Homo sapiens: one gene and its partners. The protein of the gene in region 6 purifies or fractionates together with the protein of the main gene of each other region. This does not show direct contact. Each region holds a gene or a part of one and is shown on either strand. Other genes may lie near its edges. The genes, in order: TUBGCP3, RPRD1B, TUBGCP4, TUBGCP2, MRPL3, SCAF11 and NEDD1.

Evidence for each region.
Region 1: the proteins of SCAF11 (region 6) and TUBGCP3 purify together in Homo sapiens (affinity purification with mass spectrometry; one large-scale study listed by BioGRID and IntAct). This does not show direct contact.
Region 2: the proteins of SCAF11 (region 6) and RPRD1B purify together in Homo sapiens (co-immunoprecipitation; one large-scale study listed by IntAct). This does not show direct contact.
Region 3: the proteins of SCAF11 (region 6) and TUBGCP4 purify together in Homo sapiens (affinity purification with mass spectrometry; one large-scale study listed by BioGRID and IntAct). This does not show direct contact.
Region 4: the proteins of SCAF11 (region 6) and TUBGCP2 purify together in Homo sapiens (affinity purification with mass spectrometry; one large-scale study listed by BioGRID and IntAct). This does not show direct contact.
Region 5: the proteins of SCAF11 (region 6) and MRPL3 purify together in Homo sapiens (affinity purification with mass spectrometry; one large-scale study listed by BioGRID and IntAct). This does not show direct contact.
Region 7: the proteins of SCAF11 (region 6) and NEDD1 purify together in Homo sapiens (affinity purification with mass spectrometry; one large-scale study listed by BioGRID and IntAct). This does not show direct contact.

Annotation. Positions count from the first base shown.
Region 1 is NC_000013.11:112,550,154-112,553,653, reverse strand, and holds part of TUBGCP3 (gamma-tubulin complex component 3), read left to right. Parts: intron 1-3,500. UniProt on the Homo sapiens protein: Component of the gamma-tubulin ring complex (gTuRC) which mediates microtubule nucleation.
Region 2 is NC_000020.11:38,085,746-38,089,245, reverse strand, and holds part of RPRD1B (regulation of nuclear pre-mRNA domain-containing protein 1B), read right to left. Parts: intron 2,550-3,500; exon of another isoform or gene 2,400-2,549; intron 1,384-2,399; exon of another isoform or gene 1,235-1,383; intron 1,138-1,234; exon of another isoform or gene 826-1,137; intron 1-825. UniProt on the Homo sapiens protein: Interacts with phosphorylated C-terminal heptapeptide repeat domain (CTD) of the largest RNA polymerase II subunit POLR2A, and participates in dephosphorylation of the CTD by RPAP2. Transcriptional regulator which enhances expression of CCND1.
Region 3 is NC_000015.10:43,377,601-43,381,100, forward strand, and holds part of TUBGCP4 (gamma-tubulin complex component 4), read left to right. Parts: intron 1-246; coding exon 247-303; intron 304-2,483; coding exon 2,484-2,563; intron 2,564-3,500. UniProt on the Homo sapiens protein: Component of the gamma-tubulin ring complex (gTuRC) which mediates microtubule nucleation.
Region 4 is NC_000010.11:133,291,873-133,295,372, reverse strand, and holds part of TUBGCP2 (gamma-tubulin complex component 2), read left to right. Parts: intron 1-1,603; coding exon 1,604-1,811; intron 1,812-2,134; coding exon 2,135-2,334; intron 2,335-2,684; coding exon 2,685-2,874; intron 2,875-3,325; exon of another isoform or gene 3,326-3,500. UniProt on the Homo sapiens protein: Component of the gamma-tubulin ring complex (gTuRC) which mediates microtubule nucleation.
Region 5 is NC_000003.12:131,489,472-131,492,971, reverse strand, and holds part of MRPL3 (large ribosomal subunit protein uL3m), read left to right. Parts: intron 1-2,891; coding exon 2,892-2,991; intron 2,992-3,500.
Region 6 is NC_000012.12:45,935,075-45,938,574, forward strand, and holds part of SCAF11 (protein SCAF11), read right to left. Parts: intron 1-3,500. UniProt on the Homo sapiens protein: Plays a role in pre-mRNA alternative splicing by regulating spliceosome assembly.
Region 7 is NC_000012.12:96,945,257-96,948,756, forward strand, and holds part of NEDD1 (protein NEDD1), read left to right. Parts: intron 1-436; coding exon 437-593; intron 594-3,500. UniProt on the Homo sapiens protein: Required for mitosis progression. Promotes the nucleation of microtubules from the spindle.

The DNA of each region.
Region 1 (3,500 bases), on a different chromosome or scaffold from region 6:
GGTGAGGCAGGATTTGGGAACACTGCCGAAGCTGGAGATGGGAATCCTGGCTATGGCTGTCTGGACAGCCCTGGGTGGGCACTGCCGATGGCACAGTGCATGGTTGGGAGGGAGCTGCTGCTGCTTCTCCTCCTGTTGGAGCCTGACAGGGGGCAGCTAATAGGAGCCGTGGCATCTCCACTGTCCAGCCCTTCTTTGTGGCTAAGCAGCATGTGGTCTTGTCCATAGGTTGATTATTGGGCAGTAATTACTGCCAATGAAATCTCCAAAAATTATTGAATCACAGAACAACTGTGTACTATAAGCTCAGCGTAGCACAGGACTTATGGCAGCGTAGCTGGTGGGTAGGAGGGTGGCTGGTGAGTAGGAGCGTGACTGATGGAGAAGAGCATGGCTGGTGGGGAGGAGTGTGGTGCTGTAGTGTGGCTGGTGGGCAGGAACGTGGCCGGTGGGTAAGAATGTGGCTGGTGAGTAGGCACTTGGTGTGGCAGTGTGGCTAGTGGGTAAGAACATGGCTGGTGATTAGGCATGTGGTGTGGCAGTGTGGCTGGTGGGGAGGAGCATGGCTGGTGGGTAAGAACGTGGCTGGGAGTAGGAGCATGGCCGGTGGTTGGGAATGTGGCTAGTGAGGAGGAGTGTGGGTGGTGGGTAAGAATGTGTGGCTGGTGAGTAGGCGAGTAGTGTGGCAGTGTGGCTGGTGAGTAGGAGCATGGCTGGTGGGGAGGAGTGTGCTGTGGCAGCGTGGCTGCTGAGTAGGAGCATGGCTGATGGGGAAGAGCGTGGCTGGTGGGGAGGAGCGTGGCTGGTGGGGAGGAGTGTGCTGTGGCAGTGTGGCTGCTGAGTAGGAGCATGGCTGATGGGGAAGAGCGTGGCTGGTGGGGAGGAGCGTGGCTGGTGGGGAGGAGTGTGCTGTGGCAGCGTGGCTGCTGAGTAGGCATCACACTTTGAGCTTTGAAGCGAGGCAGCCCAGGGTTCTGGTTTGGGCTTCTCCTGTAATGGTCACGTCATCTTGCCCAGGTTATCTTCTGTTGGCCACAAGTTTCTTCCTGCATAGAGTGGGGTAGTGATTACCTCTAGGATTGTGAAGGTGGGGAGAGAATGCGTATAAAGATGCTGCTTCCCAGTCTAGTACTGTTTTCTGTTCTGTTTGCCAGTCTAGTGAATTGCTCGATGACCAGCCACCACTCTCCCTCATTGCAAGGGCAGATAGGAGTGAGCTGGCTCTTTCTCGAGGCAGGTAGGACTGGTGGGCCGTCCCCTCAGGAGCCAGCTGTAATTTTAGAGTCCCTGTCCCTTTTCCCGAAGGGAGTGTTTTATCATGTCTGGGTTTATATCATCATCTTATGCAAGTGTCACTGATAGGTCCCAGTCAACTTGATAGACATGAAGCAAAACACACACACAAAATCAATACAGGATAACTAAACCATTATGTAGATATTTTATTCCAGGAGATGGATTGATCATCACTATAGTAGTATCATATTATGTTTTATAGCAGGGGTCCCCAGTTCCTGGACTGTGGACCGGTACTGGTTCATGGCCTGTTAGGAACTGGGCCGCACGGCAGGAGGTGAGTGGAGGGCGAGCAGGCATGACCGCCTGAGCTCTGCCTCCTGTCAGATCAGTGATGGCATTAGTTTCATAGGAGTGTGATCCCTGTTGTGAACCGTGCATTCAAGGGATCTAGGTTGCATGCTTCGTATGAGAATCTAATGTCTGATTATCTGAGGTGGGAACAGTTTTATCCCAAAACCACTCTGCCCCCCCATCCCACCCTGGTCCGTGGAAAAAATGTCTTCCACAAAACCAGTCCCTGGTGCCAAAAAGGTCGGGGACTGCTGTTTATAGTACTGGACTTTAGAGGCTCTTCTTTTATCTTCTTTCTCCTTATCGATTATCATAGCAGCCTTCTAAAATGATCAGGGCAAGCATTAATTGTCCCCATTTTGCAGATGTGAGAATTGAACCTCAGCAAGTTTGATTGATTTGACCAAGTTGCCCTGACTAGTAGATGGCAGGTATGGACTAGGGTGTGACGTGTCACTCTGTTCCAAAGCTGTCTCTGTTCTTCCATTTCCTGCTGTTTGGAGTCATTGCTTGGTGCCATCCAGTTGCTGAAGGAGTGATGGTTTATTTATCTTATTTGAAGAGCCAGCGTGTGCTCTCAGTGGGGTGACCGTGTGCCCTAATTTATGCCTTGCATAATTTATGTCCTGTGTCAGTATTACCAGTGCCCACAATTAGCCTTGGAGGTGTCCTGGCTCTAGACATACCAAATGGAGCAAAATCATATATGAATGAAGATACTGTTTTGTAAGTGTGAAACTTACATGTGCATTTAATGAACCAAGGTGGAAACAGCCTCTGCTAACCACAGGCCTTTTCCCTCTGAGTGTGTGTGGCGCTGCCGCGCTCTGCCTGCACTTCCACTCTTTTGGTTGTAGACTTCTCAGAAGCTGACTCACATACACCTGTATATAAATACTTAGATTCTACACGTTGGATAATGATTTGATTATTTCAGCAGGTTTTGTTTTTGTTTTTTTTTTGAGACGGAGTCGTCTCGCTCTGTCACCCAGGCTGGAGTGCAGTGGCGCGATCTCGGCTCACTGCAAGCTCCGCCTCCCATGTTCACGCCATTCTCCTTCCTCAGCCTCCCGAGTAGCCGGAACCACAGGCACCCACCACCACGCCCGGCTAATTTTTTTGTATTTTTAATAGAGACGGGGTTTCACTGTGTTAGCCAGGATGGTCTTAATCTCCTGACCTCATGATCTGCCCGCCTTGGCCTCCCAAAGTGATGAGATTACAGGCGTGAGCCACCGCACCTGGCCGCATATTTCAGCAGGTTTTTCAAAGCTTTGATGTGTTTATGTGTCTGCTCTCCTGCCCTGGGGCTGGGATGGAGTTTTGGTAAAGAGTGATGCTGTGCCTGAGCAGATTCCATGTCGTTTTCTCTGTAAATATTACCTAAGAAAACTGACCTATGGTTTAGTAAGCACCTTTGTGCCCACACTGTGCCAGGCGCTTGCCCTACGTTACCGCATTTATTCTTCCTCCCTTTGTAGATGAGCCTAGAGGTTCATACCGTCAGGGGCTGACACGTGGCGGTACCTCCAGCGGGAGCCCTGGATTTTTACCCCCTGGTCTGTCTCATTCCAGACTCTAGGACGTTTCTTCTTGCACACCTCACTTTTGACGTGTCCTTTTGTGTCTACAAAATTAGTATGTTTTATGTTCATTTTCATACTTGAAAATGTTCACATTTGTCTTAGTCCACAAACCATAAATGCAGTAAAATACACCTATAGGTGACTGCTGATATATTTTAAAAATATACAGAAAGGTATGCAACCTACATATTTACTTAAAGAAAACAAGTTTAAAAAACAATTAAAAAAAATTTTTTGATGGAGTTTTGCTGGATAAAACTGAATGAGAAAGAACACAGGTTTATCCCTTGCAGGCTGCTTCTGCTGTGGGCTCCTTGAACAGCA
Region 2 (3,500 bases), on a different chromosome or scaffold from region 6:
TACCCCACTGCTACTCCCTGTGACCAGGGCCTCCTCATTCCATAACTGAGTCACTGCAGTAAGTCCCTGGTTAGGCCTCCTGACCCCTAGGGCTCCTAAAATGCCACCAGACTTCTCTCCCAAAAGCCCAGCTTTCATGAAACCACTCCCTTGAGAAAGTGAGGCACGGCACCCCACTAGCTCCATGATCTGGTCCTTCAGAGCAGAGTTCAAGGTCTTACAAAATCAGCCCCTGCCTCACAACCTCCTAACCCTCTTTGTCTGTGTGGACCATTTTTTCAGGATTCCCCGCAAGCCTGGAGGGGGTCTCTCTCTTCTCCTAGCCCTAGCAAAGCCTGGCCTCCACTCCTCTGCTCCTTGGACTATCTGGACTCCACCTCTCTAGGAAAATCCTTGCTCTGCATCCAGGAGACGACTCCGCATCTCCTCCTGCTCCAGAGCTCTCCCTCACACAGGGTGTGTACCTGAGCCCCTAGCAAGCTGCTCTATGCTCTCTCCATACATGTGAGACTTCTATGTTCCTCTAGAATATGAATCCCCTAATGATAGGAATGGGGCATATTTTTTTTCTTTCCTCAGCTCCCGGAAAAAGGTACTCTTGATAAATCTGCCAAGATATATAGAAAACAACCCTAGGCCATGTGAAGTCTGGGGCTGTTGGCCCCCTTGGGGCTTAGTTTTTGTCCTCTCAGTGTCTCTGCAAGGGTAAGTAGGTCCCTGACGCTGGGCCCCTGCTGACTTAGAAAGCCCTTCCTGCAGGAATGTAACAAGAAGCCCTGGGCTGAGATGCAGAGACCTAGGCTTGGTCCTGGTTCTGCCTCTAACCTGCTGTGTGACCGTGGATGTGTTCCCTTCTTCCATATCTGAAAGTGAGGGAACTGGACCATAACACTTCTTTTCAAGTTCTAAATTCCTTGATACCAGATCCCTGATGCACACCTGAAGAGGCAGAAAGTAGAAGCTAGAGAATGTCTGGGAAGAATAATGAGGCAGGAAAAAGGTCAAATGGAGAATACTTAGTTCAAGTTGTAAAGACAAAAGTCCAAGCAAGGAGTGAGAGGAGGGAACCAGGCATATCCTCTCCCCATTACTGCAGGCAATCAGTCTCCCACCCGCAATGAGAGCTCCTCACACAGTCTACAAAGGAAGAGAAAAGGGTAGAGAGTGAGCTCTCCTAGCAGCCCATTTCTTTTCTTTGTAAACTTACCACAACTAAAATTAAACAATGACTTACGTAAATGATTAGCAATGACTCCCACATTTAACTAGTAAGCTCCTGGAGGCCAGGACCAGACCCATCTGCTTCCCCCAGCATCCACCAGGCTCCGCAGTGTCCAGCAAACAGTAGGCACCCAGCACATGTGCCGAATGAATGAGCCATATCTAAAACATAACATCAGGTAAAAGCATACCACATGAAGTAGCTCCTGAGACTCAGACTTTGGTTAACAGTCACCTTTCACGTTCCTGAAGTTGAAAACTATTTTCAAATTTGAGGATCTGAACCCCCTTTCTCCCACAAGTACTTTTCTTCTTTGGCTGTTTATACTTCAAGGGAAATTAATATAAAGGATGAAGGCAACTAATTCTCTATTTCTGGACACGGATTCATCTAATAAACTTCTCCTGAATGGAAGGTATAAAAAGGGTAAAATAACAAAACAACTACAGAACACGGACTTCCTGCCCCCTGCCTGAATTCTCTGACCAAAGCTGACAAATCAAAGCCACCTCGACTCAGAACCAACCACTCTTGGCAACTAGGGAGCCCTTCAGTTGAAGGAGTCCCTCAAGAACAATTTGAAAACCACCAAGTCTCTAGAAGCTGAGCTGGGATCAGAATCCAAGACTCCTTACTCTTGGGTTATCATCAGACCAACGTGGCAAGTTCATTGAAGTTAAAATGGAAGGCACTTTGCTCTAATTAGACACCACCTTAAGTTCAACTAACTCTCTCCTAGGCAATTTCTTAAAAATCCCAGTTGTGGCCAGGCGCAGTGGCTCATGCCTATAATCCCAGCACTTTGGGAGGCCGAGGCAGGCAGATCACCTGAGGTCAGGAGTTCAAGACCAGCCTGGGCAACATGGTGCAACTCCATCTCTACTAAGAAATACAAAAGTTAGCTGGGCAGGGTGGTGGGTGCCTGTTAATCGCAGCTACTCAGGGGGCTGAGGCAGGAGAATTGCTTGAACCCGGCGGGGCAGAGGTTGTGGTGAGCTGAGATTGTGTCACTGCACTCCAGCCTGGGCAACAGAGTGAAATTCCGTGTCAAAAAAATAAACAAAAAAACAAAAAAAACCCCAAAAAACCAAACAACAGTTGTTTCTGTTTGGAAGGGGGTATAGGGTGGGGTACGGGGGATTCCATCATGCTTAGGCTATTATATTCTGGACATTACCGAAGAAACTCATTTAACTAAAAAGAAATGTGTTCCACTCTTCAGGCCACTCTGGAAGTGGACGGATCCTGCCCAGAGCTCTTGATGCCACTGGGTGACTCTTCTCGCAGGGACGCCTATTGTAAGAGCAGGCGTCAGAGGAAGGAATCACTAGAGAAAGAAAGAGGGAGAGTGAGACTGTCACTGAAAAGGATTAATAAACATCAAGGCTGGCCTGGGCATGGTGGCTCACGCCTTTAATCCCAATGCTTTCAGAGGCTGAGGCAGACAGACTGCTTGAGGCCAGGAGTTCGAGACCAGCCTGGGAAATAGAGACCCTGTCTCCACAAAAAAATGAAAAACACAAAACACTGAGGCTGGTAAAAAGAAAAGATCTGTAGGCTAAGAGGTTTAAATGTATTGGCAAGGATAACCGGGTATATACTCTGAAAAACCAAATACAGGCAGCAATTGCCTTTAAAACTGTTAAAACATGTACCTGCTTAACTGGGACAGTCAAATGACCCAGATTAATTTCCTGAAGAGAGGCAAGCAGGCTCGAATTCATGGCAAGCTCTGATTAGGTTAAACTGAAGCTATAGTAATTTTTATAGTCCACTAAATAGACTCAAGTAGTAACTACTGTGATTTCCCACTCCCCATCCCTGCTTTTAAAAACAGATTCAGGCTTTCCAAACAAAGTCATCTGTAAACCTTGCCATGGACCAACAGAAGAAATTAACAGTGACTCCAGGCTAGACAAGGTGGTTCACGCCTGTAATCCCAACACTTTGGGAGGCTGAGGCAGGTGGATCACTTGTGCCCGAACATGGCAAAACCCCATCTACAAAAAATGCAAAATTAGCCAAGCGTGGTGGCACATGCCTATAGTTCCAGCTACTCAGGAGGCTGAGGTGGGAAGATTGCTTGAGCCCAGGAGGTGGAGACTGCAGTGAGCCAAGATCACACCACTGCACTCCAGCCTGGGTGAGAGTGAGACCCTGTCTCAAAAAAAAAAAAAAAAAAAAGACTGACTCCAAACAAAACTCCCCCAAATACAACTCCAGCCTTCACCTGCCTCCAAATTCTCTGGTTCTTAAGCTCTCTCAGTTGGGTCTTGCA
Region 3 (3,500 bases), on a different chromosome or scaffold from region 6:
GACCCTGTCTCAAAAAAAAAAAAAAAAAGAAAAAAGAAAAAAAAGAAACTGCCTCTCTCTGCCATCCTCTTCCTATCTGCAGCGAACCTCCACATCAAATTGCCTTAGGATGCTGGATCTTGACTGTTCTGTGGTATTGCCATTTTATCTTAAGTTGAACTATTTAGAAACAAAAGCATTTCCCAAGTTGATTTTTTTTCCCTTACATTTGATTACATACCCTTCTAATTATTCTCTACTTTGCAGTTCCAGCTTCTTTTTCCCTCTGTGATGGTTGTAGTAGAACAAATTAAAAGTCAAAAGGTGAGAACTTTCCTTATTCCTTTTGCTTTGCTAAGCACTGAGGGAATATTACTAATTAATTTTGCTTTACATTATTTTTCGAAGACCCTAGTTTTTAGTAGTTTTTATTTATTCATTCATTTAACAATATCTGCTTGGTTATCATGTTAAGTGTCAGGAATGCAAAAGTATGACTCTGCCTTTAAACACCTCCTGGTCCAGAAGGTAGAGGAAATGTTCATAGATGTTCCCAAGAATGTTGTTGGGGTAAGAAAAAAAGTGCTGTGGATGTTTGCAGGTGAGAGGAACCTGCAGTAAGGTTTTAGAACTGTTGGGTGTGAAGCAGAAAGTTAATTCTTAGGAAGAAGGTAATAGGTTTATGGTTAGTGTGCTGGCAGTTTTCTGAGAATTTTGAGATCAGTGAGTGAAAGCCAGATGTTTAATAAATATGCCTATTCTTATCACAAGTTTTTATCAGGTGTATTGAGAAGTTAGGAGAATGTCTTTCTGGGCAGAGTTAATAAGTCTGAGGAATAAATGCTTTGAGATTTCATATTAGAAGAATCTGCTGTCCTATTGAATTGGTCCACAATTGGACCAAGTGGACAAATGGATTAAACATCTTTAGCTCAAGTCGTCATTTTTTTTAAGCTCTTTATTTGTGCCTTAGCTTATTAGGGGTGTTCATTTTCATTAATGTAACTAGTAAACCAGTTAATCTGCCACATTGCTGCATCATTTTTAACTGTGTAAGTGTAGAAACAGTGCTCTGCTATGTTCATGCTGTGCCAGCAAAGCCAGTGGTGGGTGCTCATTGGCCCTTCAAAGCTGATTGTCCTCATCAAATAACAACATCCAGCTTTTACTGTCACTGGCTGTGTACTAGGCACTGTGCTAAGTGCTTTAAATACATTATCACACACAATCCACTAAAGGGCTAAGTTGGTTAAGGGGTGTGCCCAGTGTCACACAGATAGTAGTAAATGGGTTTATATCCCAGCTCTATCTGGCTCCAAAGAGTGTGCTCTTAACCACTAGATTAAACTATCTCCCAAAATAAAAGGAGACATTCTAGGCAAATAGAGTTAATGAGGACAGCATAAGGGAGCCAGGCCTAGCTGCACGTCTCAGTTGGCCTTCAACTTCCGCTGGCTATAGGAAGGAGAGTGGAAAATAGGGGGATTGCAGATGGCTGAATCTTCCTCCCTGCCAGAATAGTGGTAGAGAAACTAGTGTACCAAGGCTCTTCAGAGTTTTTAAAATCAGGTGGTCAAAATTCTAGGTTTGGGTTGAGAATGGAGATTGATTGCAGACAGGCACAAAGGCGCTTTTTGGAGTAGTGGAAATGTTATAAAACTGGATTGTGGTAATGGTTGCCCAGTGTTTGAAATTTACTAAAAATTGTTTATTAGTATGCTTAAAATGGGTGAATTTCATTGTAAATTATACCTCAAAGTGGTAAAAATAAAAGTCTGGGGACCGGGCATGGTGGCTCACGCCTGTAATCCCAGCACTTCGGGAGGCCGAGGCGGGCGGACCACGAGGTCAGGAGATTGAGTCCATCCTGGCTAACACAGTGAAACCCTGTCTCTACTAAAAATACAAAAAAAATTAGCCAGGCGTGGTGGCGGGTGCCTGTGTCGCACTACTCGGGAGGCTGAGGCAGGAGAATGGTGTGAACCCAGGAGGCAGAGCTTGTAGTGAGCCAAGATTGCACCACTGCACTCCAGCGTGGGCGACAGAGCAAGACTCCGTCTCAAAAAAAAAAAAAAAAAAAAAAGTCTGAAGAACATAGAGGCAGAGGATTTTTGAAAAAGTATATACCTTAGAAGTAGACTGAATTGGGCCTTAACTTGAAATAAAAAGCTTTCCTTGGCTTTGGTGTTCCAACTCTAAATGATTCTGGTTGCTTTAAGTGCAGTGGTTCTCACACTTTACTGTGCATTAGAATCACCTGGAGGGCTTGTGGAAACACTGAGTGCTGGGTTCTAACCAAGAGTTTGCATGTCTGATGAGTCTCCAGGTCATGCTGCTGATGGGAGAGAGGTCCCTCTTTGAGAACCACTATGTGTAAATCTTAGGAGAAAGTTTATCCCCAGTCTCTCCTAGATTGTGCCCTCTTGGTTGAATATGGAATAAGAATGTGTCTTGCATGGACTCTTAGAATGGAATCCAGTTTGACAAGGCCGTATTTTCCACAGATTCATGGTTGTCAAATCCTGGAAACAGTCTACAAACACAGCTGTGGGGGGTTGCCTCCTGTTCGAAGTGCACTGGAAAAGTAAGTCATGGCTTAACTGGGAATTGGTGGTGGAGGTGGGTGGTCAAATTATTTGACTTCTCACATGTTTTATTTTCAGGTCATTTCAGGTTTCCCTCTTGGGAAGGTTATAACCAGGATAGAAAAAGCTCCATGAGCAGAGGAGCCCATGTAACCTTTATTATGGCTCAGGCCTTGCAAAAAGGGCTATAGAGTGTTGAGTGACAAAGCCAGGATTTAGGTGCCTGGATGACCTTGAGGCAATCTTTTTAAATGTTTAGATCCTGTTATCCTTGCAGGAATTCCATTACATGTGCCAGATGTTGCTTGCTGTGTCTAAACATGTGTATTTGAGTAGCTGGTATTTTCAAATTGAAGGTCCTTAAAAATGTTTATGCTTTATAATCCCATAATGCCACTCTTGGGAATTTTATCCTAACAAAACTATTTAATAGAAGAAAATAACTATATGCACAAACGTGTTCATTGCAATGTTGTCTACTATATCAGGAAATTAGAAAATTACCAACAGTAGAAAAAAATTTAAATGATGATATATTCACTTGATAGACTATAAAGCCACTAAAAGTGTAGGTACTATAACATGTAAACTATTTTATATAAATATGTACTGACAAATGATACAAAATTGTATTTATCTTGTGATTACAACAATATGAAAACATGTAGAGTATAATCAAAGACTGCCTGTTTGAGCTTTCCATTTATCCATTTTCCTTATTTTAAAAAAACTGTGACATTCATTGAAAAATTATAATAGATGATCCCTGAGGCCACTCACAACTCTGTTTTGTTCTTTTTTTCTTATTTTATTTTAATTTTTTGTAGAGAGAAGGCTTTGCTATGTTGCCCAGGCTGGTCTCGAACTCCTAGGCTCAACCGATATTCACATCTTGGCCTCCCAAAGTGTTGAGATTACAGGTGTGAGCCACCGCAC
Region 4 (3,500 bases), on a different chromosome or scaffold from region 6:
CAAGCTCAGGTGATTCTCCCACCTCAGCCTCCCGAGTAGCTGGGACTGCAGGTGTGCACCATCACACGCAGCTAATTTCTGTATTTTCAGTAGAGACGGGGATTCGCCGTGTTGCCCAGGCTGGTCTTGAACTCCTGGAGTCAAGCGATCTGTCCACCTTGGCCTCCTAAAGTGATGGGATTACAGGTGTGAGCCACCATACCCGGCCTAAAGCAACCCTTGAGGTCCCTCCACAGCCAGGCGGCTGGATCCACACTAACCCCCACCCCACGGCACCTCCACCCCACCGTGAGGCTTCTCCCCACAAGGGCATTGGCCGAGGCTTCGTGGCTGTGGATGAATGAGGCCAACATGGTGGAAAGTAAGTGATGCAGAGTCAGAGGCAGTTCCTGGAAGATGCACTCGCTGTTCCCAAAACGCCAAGCCACACCCACTCCTTTAGGGATGGTAGACATTGGGGTCTCGGTTTTATTGGTCATCCTGAGAAGGCCACTGGAGTAATAGAAAGAAATGGAATTTGAAGTTGAAAAGTGTAGATCTGCCAGCCTGGGCAACACGGCAAGACCCCACCTTTACAAAAAATTTAAAAATTAGCCAGGAATGGTGGCACGTGCCAGTGGTCCCAGCTCCGAGGGAGACTAAGGATACAGGATCGCTTGAGCCTGGGTGCTCAAGGCTGCAGTGAGCTGAGATTGCACCACTGCCCTCCAGACTGGGTGACAGAGTGAGATTTGTCTCAAAAATAAAAAAAGGAAAAAAAAAAAACAAGGACAGTGTGGATCTGCATCAGGATTGAGGCTTTCGCTGAAGGGCTTGCGTTGGTGACGGATTGTAGTCTTGAGGCCTGCAGTCACAGGACACTTCCCAGCAGATGTGTGAGGCTGACAGAGTGATTTTGTAAACCGAAAGCCTGTTGTACGGAGCCTTCCTGAGCTGCCAGGGCCTGGTTTGGGTATGGTCTGGCTGGCACGGGGCCCTGTCAGGCCCTCGTGGGGACAGTTTCAACATCCTGCTTTCGTCTGGTGCTCCTCCCGGCCCCCCAGGCATGGCCCGCCTGAGGCTGTGGACTGAGAACTTGGTCCTGGGACCTGAGGGGTTTGGTGGGTGGCGGCCCGTGGCCGTCCTCGTGAGGAAGCTTAGCTGTGTGTCCTGCAGCCGTCTCATCCTCTCTGGATAGAAATTATCAAGAGTTTCTTAACGTTTAAGTGATAGCTTTTTAAAGACAAGGTTTTTTGTCCCAGAGTAACTCAGACTTACCAAGTTGTACTTACCAATGTTGAAAGTGCAGCTTCTGCTGGAGTCGCCTTTTCAACTCCTAACTTCACCTTTTCAAATGTCAGCCATGTATCTGAGCATTGCGGAGCCGAGTGTGGTGAGATCTTGACACCAGCCACCACGCCTCCCAGGCCGGCCCCGTCCTGCGGCGGTTGGAACTCAGCCTGTGGCTCCCCAGTGGGGTCAGTCAAAGCCAAGTGCAGTGGCTGACCTTTTATACCCATAAACAAAGATGAGCAAGAGTGAGACTGACCCGCAGATGAGGGCACGTGGCTGTGGGGGCATGGGAGTGGGGGCTGCAGAGCCACAGCGCTGTCTGTGCCCGCAGGCACGTTGCCCCTGGCCTCGCAGGAGTCGGCCGTGGTGGAGGACCTGCTGTACGTGCTGGTGGGCGTGGACGGGAGGTACGTCAGTGCTCAGCCCCTGGCTGGGAGGCAGAGCCGGACCTTCCTCGTGGACCCCAACCTGGACCTGTCCATCAGGGAGCTGGTGCACAGGATCCTCCCAGTGGCCGCCAGCTACTCCGCTGTGACCAGGTGGGCACCGGGCGCGGTCCCTGGGAGCCTGCGCTGTTGTGGGGGAGGGGTTAGGTCCCATCCTGATGACCATGGGGACGTCTGCATCGCTTCTAAAGAGAGCGCCCGCCTTGGTGACAACTCCGTGCCCAACTCAGTTTTGGAGGGTCTGTGAGTCACCATCCAGGGTCCTGACTCATCTCCTCCTGGGGCAAAAGTTCCCCTCTGGGATGTGGGGTTCAAGTGAGTCATTTGCTTCCTGTTTGGGATGAGACTCAGAATATCGGACATTGTATGTGCCTGCAGCTTGCCTTTTTGAGGAAGTCTGACAGCTTTTCTTCCAGGTTCATTGAAGAGAAGTCTTCCTTCGAGTACGGGCAGGTGAACCACGCCCTGGCGGCCGCCATGCGCACCCTGGTGAAGGAGCACCTGATTCTGGTGTCACAGCTGGAGCAGCTGCACAGGCAGGGCCTCCTTTCGCTGCAGAAGCTCTGGTTCTACATCCAGCCAGCCATGCGCACCATGGACATCCTGGCCTCCCTCGGTGCGTGCCCGCCCGGGGGGCATGGGGCAGTGGTGGGTGGCAGGTGTTGAACATGGCACCCAGTGTGAGGAGAGACTCTGCAGGGGCCGTGGAGCAGCTGCCCAGGGCAGGGGCGTGTGGCCAAAGCTCATGTTGCTCCATGTGCTATTAACTTGCAAGAGGAAAGCCCTGGAAGCTCTTACTGGTCAGCTGAAATCAGCAACTACAACCTTACAGTTAATACGTATCCCAAAGAAGCAGCACCGTCCCAGGAAGAAGGTTGGAGAAGCATGAGGGGCCCCAGCAGTGTTGTTGGCAGAGGCTGGGCGTGCGCTTCCTTCTCAGCAGTGAGCCCTCCTTTCTCCCCACAGCCACCTCGGTGGACAAAGGCGAATGTCTTGGGGGGTCCACGCTGAGCCTGCTCCACGACAGGAGCTTCAGCTACACAGGGGACAGCCAGGCGCAGGAGCTATGCCTGTACCTAACCAAGGCGGCCAGTGCTCCCTACTTCGAGGTTCTGGAGAAGTGGATCTACAGGGGCATCATCCACGACCCATACAGGTAGGGCTCCCCGGGACACGGGGACACGGAGGGACACGGGGACACGGAGGGACATGGGGGACACGGAGTGTGCATGCTGCCCTCTCCCGTACAGGTAGGGCTCCCCGGGACACGGGGACACGGGGGACACGGAGGGACACGGGGGACACGGAGTGTGCATGCTGCCCTCTCCCGTACAGGTAGGGCTCCCCGGGACACGGGGACATGGGGGACACGGAGGGACACGGGGGACACGGAGTGTGCATGCTGCCCTCTCCCGTACAGGTAGGGCTCCCCGGGACACGGGGACATGGGGGACACGGAGGGACACGGGGGACACGGAGTGTGCATGCTGCCCTCTCCCGTACAGGTAGGGCTCCCCGGGACACGGGGACATGGGGGACATGGGGGACACGGAGGGACACGGAGGGACACGGAGGGACACGGGGGACACGGAGGGACATGGGGGACACGGAGGGACACGGAGGGACACAGAGGGACATGGGGGACACGGAGGGTGCGTGCTGCCCTCTCCCGTACAGGTAGGGCTCCCCGGGACACGGGGACACGGAGGGACACGGAGGGACATGGGGGACACGGAGGGACATGGGGGACACGGACGGTGCATGCTGCCCTCTCCCGTACAG
Region 5 (3,500 bases), on a different chromosome or scaffold from region 6:
AGTCCTATAGCAATCTATATCGAGTCTTAAGAATTAAGGTGGGGGGAAGACCCAGGAATTATAAGAAAATAAGATGTCCATAGGTTTTGTTTTTAGTGACACTGGTTGTAGTGATATTTACAATAGCAGGACAGAAGGCAGGAGTGGAGAGCAGACAGCAGGTTCTACCAGGAGCTGGGGATATAGCAGCAACTAAAGCAAGTCTCTGCTTTCAGGAAGCTTAGATTTGGGTAGGTTTGGGGGTGAAATGGGGAGGCTGTTACATAGAACAGGGGTCCCCATCCCCTGGGCTGTAGACTGCTCTGTGGCCTGTTAGGAATGGGAACTGCACAGCAGGAGGTGAATGGCAGGTGAGTGAGCATTAGTTACCACCCGAGCTCTACCTCCTGTCAGTCAGATCAGTGGCAGCGTTAGATTCTTATAGGAGCGCAAACCCTATAGGAGCTGTGTGTGCGAGGGATCTAGGTTGCATGCTCCTTATGAGACTCTAATGCCTGATAATCTGAGGTGGAACAGTTTCATTCTGAAACCATCCCTCTTGCTGCCTCCACTGGTCTGTGGAAAAATGGTCTTCCATGAAACCAGTCGCTGGTACCGAAAAGGTTGGGTACTGCTGACATAGAAACAGTAAAAAATGTGTATCATGACACATGGAGATAAATGCTTTGAAGGGTAATACTAAAAATATAAAGGATTTTTCTCGGAAGCTTCCTGGTATGCCTAAAAAACTGGTATTAATAAAATAATATGCTTTAATAAAATAAAAGTAGGCTGAGGGGATAAGTGACAAAAAATGATGCTATTTCAGATTGAGTAATTAGACAAGGTAAGTTGATATTTTGATTGATACCTGAATAAGTAAGGGAGCCAGTCATGCAAAAATATGGCAGAAAAGCATTCTAGACAGAGGCAATAGGATGCGCAAAGGTCTTGAGGCTAGTGTTTGATGTGTTCTTGGGCCAATAAGGGAGTGCATTTTTTCTGAAGCAGGGTGAGTCAGGAGGAGAGTAAAAGATGAGGTCAGATTGTGTAGAACATTTTAAACCATGGTAAGGACTTAGGACTTGATTCTGTAAGAAGTAGAAGCCACTGTAGATACATGATATGGCTTGAGTTTTAAAATGATAATGCCAGCCTGTGAATTGAGAACAGACTAGAGAGTCGGAAGGGTGGAAGCTTGGAGACCAGTTTGGAGGCTATTGAAATAATCCAGGCAGAAGATAGTGGATGAGGTTGACATTGGGATGGGGTGGTAAGTGGTTGGCGTGGGCTATATTTTTAAATAGTCTGGAGGAATTGCTGATGAATGGGACATGGAATGTGAAGAAGAAAAGAATCAAGGGTGACCATAAGATTTTTGACCTATACGGCAGCATTATGGAGTTGCCTTTTTTATTGAGATTTGGAAGAAGGCCTGGGAAGGGCAGGCTTGGTGAAGGGAGTTGAGTTCAGTTTTAGACACGTTAAGCTTAAGTTTCTATATGACATTGAAGTGGAGATAATGACTTGGCAGTTGGACATGTGAATGTATAGTTCAAAGTAGAATTTGGAATTGAAGTTAGAAATGTGCAGACATTCACATATATGAGAACCGAGAGAGTAGTAACTGGAAGCCAAGAGAAAGTCTTCCATGGAGAGAGTGGTCACCTGTGTTAAGCATTGCTGGTAGATTCAGTAAAATGAGTATCAACCAGTGTGGTTGACCGTATGGAGATCCTTGGTGAATGACAAGCACTTTGCATTGAGTGCTAGGAGCTGAAAGTGCTGATTAAACTGGGTTCACAGAATGGGAGGAGAGAAAGTAGACTTGGCAAGTCTTTCCAGGAGCTTTGCTGTAAGGGGGAACAGAAAAATTAGCTAAAGAATATGTGGTCAAGAAAAAGTTTGTTTTAATATGTGAATTATTGTGACATGTTATATATAGTGATAGGAAGTTCCAGTAGAAAGGGGAAAAAAATGAAGATTTCTTAGAAGAGAGTGGGGACAATTTCAGGAGGAAACCATTGAATAGGTGAGAAGGGGTGGGAATTAGTGCTTTTAATAAAAGTATGGAGAGCTCATCTGTCAGCATGATTTCCAGCCCCAGTTTGACATAGAAATCATGTGAGGTGCTTGAAAATTAGCAATGCCTAGACCCCACACTAGACAGTGAAATTACAATCTCTAAGCAGAGGGCCCTTGCCGTTGGCATTTTCCAGAAGCTCTCCATGTGCATCTCATGTGTAACCTAGAGTGGGGTGGGAGGATAGTACTGTTAATATATTAGTGCTGGTATAGACAATTTGGTAAAAGCATGGAGAAGTTCTCTTAATTCTTTTATTTGATCAACTCAAAGGGAGGAAGAGGAAACAGTGCTGAAGATTTTAGAAAAGGATGTGACTTAGTTTTCTTATAGAGTGTGAAAATGATTTAACCAGAGATATGTAGGTATCTCTAGATATAAGCAGGCCACATTTGAGATTCTGAAGTTTGTGGTCATAACATTTAAATGTAACATACCGTGTTTTCTTCCAGTTTAGAATAAGTGCAGAATAGGCAGAGTTGATTTTTCGGGGTTTGGGTTCTTAATTCAGACAGTCTCCAGTCAGAATTTAAATATGAGCACAACTCTCTATTTTCCTGCAGAACAGAGGTCTTTCCCAGTGTGCTATATTTGAACACTATGTACATGATTGGAATCTAAATAGTAAGATTATTCAGAGATGTAATAAAATATAGCTATAAATCTCACCTCCCTTAAATAAGGGGAATTGGGTGCCCTTTGTTCATTAAGGAATAAGGTATGCTTTGATTTATTTTCTGGGGTGTTAATAACTTGGTTTAGATCTCCATGCATTTAATTCCACTTTTAATATTCAATGTATTACTTATATGTGCTGCTTTTCCTCTAGAAAGCTACATCCATATTGGAATTTTACCGGGAACTTGGATTGCCGCCGAAACAGACAGTTAAAATCTTTAATATAACAGATAATGCTGCAATTAAACCAGGTAATTTGAGGTTGGGGAGAGGAGGGAGGTAAAAATACCCAAATATGCAATTTGTTTAATGTCAGCCCTTTCAATAAAGCTACATCTAAAATGCAAAGTCTCAAACACTTACTTTTAAATACAAAACTGTATCTCATTTTGTTTTTTTTTTTTTTTAGTGGAAAAACCTGTAGATAACTCTTTGCTTTCTGTGAGAGAGGGAGGAACACTTTTGTTTTTAATGTAGAGAGAGTTTAATATTTGAAAAAGCCACCTCAAAGAAATACACTAACTTTTAAAATTCAAAGATCGTTGTTCACAGGCTGGCATTCATGAAAAATAGCCAGGCTCTTGCTTAGGTAGAAGAACTGGAGAAAATATAATAACAGAAGGGACCGACCATAGCACCTCAATGTAAAGATTCTTACTTAAAATTTCCAAGATATTTTGCCTAATCCGTGGACTGTCAAAGAGTAAAGATTTGGCATATGATTATATTGGCTCATATGGTTAGCAAAATATAACATTTT
Region 6 (3,500 bases):
ACGTTGGTGGCTGCATTGCTTATGACTTGTCCACAGTGCATATGACAACTGCCTTTTAATTTTCCCCCTTGCTTGCCTCACAAAGGGCCTATTGACATTGTTCAAAATAAATCACACTAACTAGGAGGCTTGTTTCCTGCACTGCAAGATCATATGTATTTTGGTTTACTTCTGTTAGTTCAGTTGGTAATAGCCTACTTTCTACTTAATAGCATACTAATTTCCTTTTTAGTTATTATACAACAGCTGTTTGGTTTTGCACAAGTCCCTCTCAGAACTACTGTAACAAATGTAATTTCAATGTTAGTGGAAGACGAACAGGCTGAGTTCCGGAACTTACTGCCTTACCCCTTTGAAAATCTGTATCTAAAAGATGATACGCTGATTTTTTAAAATGGCTTAAGAGGCAAGAAGTAAAAATGTGTGGTAGGTACACAGATAACACTCTTAGAAATAACCATGTTCCTTCAGCTAGACATAGAATTGCTGTGCTATACCTACATAGTGTCTTTTATGCCCTAAGGATGCTGAGTTGTTTTGTTTCAGGTTGCATTCACTCAACACTTAACGAGTATGTAGTGTTTACATAGCATTCTTTCATTTGGAAACCTATCTCAGAAAGCCATCATTAGATAAAATGCTCTCTACTGAAAGAACTGTTAGTTTTCTCTGAGCAATGCTACATGTGAAAATCCAGTTCAAAAGCTGTTTCACATATTTCTGGGTAATTCTCAGGTAATTACTCAACAGCTTCAATGGCAATCTCTAAAGTATTCGATACTGGTGAATTTGTCTAAATTGTGGTTTCCTGAAGATCGTTTCACAAATCCACCCTACTTGTCTGTTTTTGGTGGGCAGTGATACGCCTTTTCATTTAATTTTTATCAAAGTAATGCATGTACATACTTTAAGATGTCAAACAGTACTTCCAAACTTATAAAGAAAAATTATGGAAATACCCACTCTTGATTTCTGCTTCCCCAAAGCACTCATCAAATCCTTTGGCTGTTTCTTCTAACATTTACTTATTACTAAATAACACCCTTATACTACTCTATGTGTGGTTTTTTTTGTTTTTTTTTTTTGAAACAGAATCTCGCTTTGTTGGCCAGGCTGGAGTGCAGTGCCACAATCTCGGCTGACTGCAACCTCTGCCTCCCAGGTTCAAGCAATTCTCCTGTCTCGGCCTCCTGAGCAGCTGGGACTACAGGCGCACACCACCACGCCCGGCTAATTTTGGTATTTTTAGTAGAGATGGGGTTTCACCATATTGGTGAGGCTGGTCTTGAACTCCTGACCTCAGGTGATCCACCCACTTCGGCCTCCCAAAGTGCTGGGATCACAGGCATGAGCCACCACGCCCAGCCAGCTTCATTCAGGTATTTTCCTAGGGTTAATAATGTCTTTGTTTTCTCTTTTCCTTTTCTTCCTTATTATCCATCATTAATTTAGCTAACTACAACAAAAGTATAAATCTGAGTTTAATACACTCAAACACAACAACTCATCCATAAGGTTTGTTCCCCACTCTCCTGGCAAAACTCTTTCTTTGTCCTGGTCCAATATGAACTGGTAACTCTCAAAGCTGCTGTTCAATAGTCATTTTGGGATTGTCCTTTGTCATTATCCCAATAATCCTCTTTGTCCTGTTTAATCTTTTCCTGAGTTGGAACTCATTTTCTGAATCTCACATTGTTCTTCCATTTACTATCTCATTTAGTGAAGTATATACATACATCCTCCAGCAGAAGTGGAAAAGGGTGGGAATTCTGAGTTAGTGCACGATGGATAGTTTGATAGGTTATAGAATTGTCTAGGTTAGTAATTATTTTCCCTAGAGTTTTCAAGGCATTGCTTCACTACTCCAACTATTGTTGATGACACTCTGTAACCCCAATCCTCTATGTGGTCTGTTTTTACTCTCTCTCTTGTCATCCTCAGACTTCTAGAACTTTATGAAGTATTTGGTATGATTTTTTTTTCATTTACTAAGTATTATATTATTTCTTCATATCTGGACACCTGTGCTCTACTATTACGGAAAAAATTTCCTTTGTATTACTTTTTTAAAAATAAATTTTTGCATTTTTCCTTCCTGAAATTTTATTATTCGATATTGAATCTCTTAAATGAATATCCTATCATCTCTTTTTTAGTCCTACTTTGAGACTTAAGAACTTATCTTCTACTCCTGTTGAATTTTTGTATTTTTGCTGTAATATTTTTAACTTCTGAAAGCTTTTTCTTAAATATTATTTTTCTTGTATCATTGATAAAATATCCCTTCTTTCAGGCTTTGAGGATATTAAGTTTTTTAAAGTTATTCCCTATTTTTCAGCATTGGGTCTGTCCCATCAGGTTGCTTTTGTCTTTGTTTTGATCTCTATTATGTTGATTTTCCTCAAACATCTGGAGATCCTTGATTGTTTGCTGGACACTAAAATATTGATTGAAAATGGTGTAGATGGGTGGTCAGAGCCTTTCAGCTAATGTGTTTCACTGTAGGGTGATCAAGCAGACATCTGGTTACTTCATTGGGAGACTCTCAAATGACATTATCTTTAAGTCTTTTCTTTTGGGCAAGTCAGTTTTCCAAAAGATGTCCCTTATTTCCTACTTTGGAAAATTATAATAATCAAGACTGCCAGTGCTTTGAAAAATGCTCTTAGGTAGAGGACTAGAAGCCTCATCATTTGACTTAATTTCCCTCTCTGTTGTTTCCTGTACCATCATTTATGCTAAAGTTTAAATCTGGTTCAAATACTCATTTTAGAGTGTAAATCTCCAGTCTTTCATTGGGTACTCCCCTTCCTCTACCCACAGCCAGGAATCTTCAGGATCTAAAGATTTTTAACCAATTCTGTTTTCCAAAACCACCCCATATCTCTGCCTTCACAGATAATGGAGGCCTCCAAACTCAACTTGCTAAGGTTTGATGGTATGTGTACTGTCTTGAGATTCTTAACTCCATTCTTCCCATGAAATGTCTATGTATCAGCTTTCTGCTAAGACAATTTACCATCCCCCTCATACTGTTTTACTTTCTATTTTGTGGACACTTATGTGCTGTCCCCCTCTCTCCAGCTTTCTTGTCTTTGTGGCTTAAACTTTGTGGCTTAAAACTCTTCTTTCTGGCCAGGCACAGTGGCTCACAACTGTAATCCCAGCACTCTGGGAGGCCGAGGTTGGCGGATCACCTGAGGTCAGGAGTTCGAGACCAGCCTGGCCAACATGGTGAAACCCTGCTCTACTAAAAATACCAAAATTAGCCGGGCATGATGGCGGGCACCTGTAATCCCAGCTACTCAGGAGGCTAAGGCAGTAGAATCACTTGAACCTGGGAGGCGGAGGTTGCAGTAAGCTGAGATTGTGTCACTGTACTCCAGCCTGGGTGACAAGAGCGAGACTGCATCTCAAAAAAACAAACAAACAAACAAACAAAAAACACACTTTTCTTTCATTCCTTTATTGTCATTTTAGTAGAGATTTGGGATGAGAGG
Region 7 (3,500 bases), about 51 Mb from region 6:
TATATTTTGCTTGAAGTTTTCTGTGGATATATATTGCATTAGCTTAAACTCTAAGGCTTTTCCTGTAGCAGTACTTTACTCCTATTTTCCTTCGGTTTGTTTTTAATAGTCTTGGTTTATCTAGTTTATGGTGCAGCTTGTCACATTCATCTTTTATAAGAGGAAATGGTTCATAGATTCTTCAAGATTAATCCCTCTGTCATGTGGTATTACATTAGACAGCTGGCAGTTTATATATATAGATAAATGACTATTAGAAATAATGTTATAGAAAGTTTCTAAGATTTGTATTCCAGACAGTGAATTTTTCTAAATGTCACAGGAACACTCTTCTTTGCCAGTTTTTCAAGTTTGCACATGCCAAATCTTATTTAGAAATGTTTGATGTCTCTCAGTCCAAGTTGACTATTAATATTTTCTTCATTCTTTATTTTAGATCCAAAGATAGCATCTTCTGTCACTGCTGGAGTTGCCAGTTCACTCTCAGAAAAAATAGCCGACAGCATTGGAAATAACCGGCAAAATGCACCATTGACTTCCATTCAAATTCGTTTTATTCAGAACATGATACAGGAAACGTTGGATGACTTTAGGTAGTAATTGAGAAACTACTCCTTCTATCTAGACCTTACTTGTTTTTTTTTTAGATGTAAAACCAGAACTATAGATAATGTTGTTGGTTACTATTGTCTAGGTTCTGGTAATCCTAAAGCCATAGAAAACATAATGAGTTTTGTTGATCTTTTCGTACTGCATTTATTGATTATGAGCCAGGAAAAGGCACATTTACCTAGGGCAATTATTAGGTAACTCAGCAGGGCAGTCTAGCAGGTAGACTGCCATTGTGAACTTTTTTTATTATTAAAATGTGGACAAGTTCTGGTAAGCTTAAATTGGGTTCTTAACCTGCAGTATGTTCATAGATCTATTAGGTATGCTGTGTGCAATAATGTAGTAGAAAAAGATACTTTAAAGCACAATTCTGAATGTTTTCCAATAGAATGCATCAGAATGTAATACTTAATCTAAAAAAAATTCTTTCTCAGACTTATCCTTGTCTGTCTCATCCTTCGAATTGTGAACATTCTAAGAATGTGTTCTACAATGCTGCTTTCTTTTATCATCTCAATATTTTTGGAAGCTATCTTCAATTATTAAAATCATTGGTGCCTTTTTTCCTTTCTAACCTATAGTTAATGTTGTAGCTCAGATTTGGATTACCGTAAGCAAGAATGTTGGAGAAAATGTGCAGTTTTTGTTGGTGCATGCTTCCTTTTAATGTTTTAAAATACTTTTAAAATATATTTTTAAATGTCGAAAAATACTTTTTAAAGAAAAATTGTAATTTTGGCATTTACCCTACCTAGTATATGTACCAGATACTAAGGATACATCAAATGATCTGCCACAAAGGCCTTGTGATGTAGTTGGGCTAGGTGCAGTGTGTTCTGCCATGTGTGTTTCTCTTAATGTGAATTAATTCATTTGGGATCAGTAGAATAGAACACTGTTGACAATATGATGAGGAAATTTTGTTTGTTCGTGTAATAGCAGCCAAAATAAAGTACACCTGAACACAGCTGAATGCAGCAAACCCCGTCAGCATCCATCTCTTTTTATTCACTTCCTCTTGGCTTGGCTGTGTGGTCTGTTAGAAGTACTTATTTTGTGATTATTTCCCATCTTTGGGCATTTTGCTCTTGCCTCTGTAACTTGATAGCCGCAATCCTTCTATCCTCTTCCATTAAGTGACCATCACTTCTTCACAGTAAGGGTATTATTCAATAATTATCTATTAGATTTTTACTATGTCTTTTTAACTATGTTAGTATTTTTATTAGGATTTAATTGTTTTTGTTGTGCTCTGGTTACAAAGTTGCATAGGTTTTTGAGTGCTTTGCCCTAATCCTTTTTCCCTAAGTTCTGTTATTTTTAATACACAGTGTTAAAGAATATACGTTTTTTTCAGGAGTGCATAAATATTTATGGCATAATAGTAGAACTGTCTGGATACAGCTGACTATAATACAGTGTGAGCAAAGTGATGTTGAAATCACAGAAAGGGAGCAGTTCTTCTGTGGGGGCAGATTTAGAAAGGTACACTGAAGAGATTTTATTTTATACTGATGTGTGTGGGAACAGCTTGAGCAGAGACATGATCATACATTCTAGGAATGTTTGCAGAGAGAAGGCACCGTGGTAAGAGACCAGGCCTGAGGGACAGTTGTGAAGGTCTTAACACACAGGTAATGGAGAGCCATCAGAGTTTTTAAGCACAGGAGTAATGGGTGCTGTCTATTTATTACCCATTTATTCAACAAGCATTTGGGTGTCAGTTCACCACTGGCTTCAGATGATTTGAGGACAGTGGGCTCAGGGCCTTTCCTTCAGCAGACCCAGGGATCTGAGTGCTGGAGCAACTCTGAAATCGCTGTGCATTTCTGCCCTGCTGCCAGCTTTCGGGGTGGCTGGAGCTTGTTTTTCACTATCTAACCTGTTCCTGGCTTTCTGTGCCTCAGGAGAAGTGTGTCTGTCCCACTTTCAGCCCTGCAGAGCTGCTGCAGCACGTTTGGTGAAGACGTACAGTCAGTGCCTCTTGGTTTTGCTGCCCTGTGCTGCATGTCTGCACCTAGGAGTGGTGGGTAGGGACTTCTCTCAGCTCTTCTGCCCTTTGACCATAGGCAGCCTCTGCCTGGGACGCAGTGAAGACCCAGAGTGGCTCAGAGGATTTCCATAAATTCACTTGTTTTGCCATTTGCCTAGGTGTTCATCAGACTAGGTGTTCATCTACACCTATCATTGGCAGGACAGAGAGGGTATTGAGGACCTCTTTCTCAGCCATCCTCCCGTGGCTGCCATCTTCTCCATGAGAGCCTGGAGTGCCTTAGAGGGGTTACTCTCAGTTCTTCTCTGCTGCCCTAAGGTTTCACCAGGCTCTGTGCATCTGTATCTTAGGGAGTCTCCCTCAGCCCTCCTGTTACACTTGTCCCTACTTTTTTTACATGAGCGCTGAATGAAGGCTTGTGGGAAAAAGTTGGTGAGTAAATTGAGACTCTCCTTGTGGCTGGGACCCCTTGGAATTCTAAACTATCAAGCAGTGTTTACTTGGCTTTTAAAAATCTTATTAAAATTTCAGCTAGTTCTTTTTACTCTGTCAAGGGCATGAAGATGGGTCTCTTTTCTCCTAGTCATGGGTCTCTTTTCTCCTAAGAGGAACTCCTCATTTTCTGGATTTTAGTTCATTTAGATTTCTTTCCATTCTCAGCTCTCGGTTGAATTTAAAATAATATGATTTTATAGGTTATCAGGTTTGTTTTCGTTATTAGAGTTGAGAAATTATACTTTTGCACCAACCTAATACATCCTAAGTGGAAATCTGTGCATCTGTTTCTGTTGTCTATTAAGAAGATTTAAGTTTCTTTTGGCAAGCAGATCCCTTTGATCCTTTGGTTACTAGGTTCAGGTTTTCTTAGCACTAGTTTGTTTCCAGTTTGCCTTTA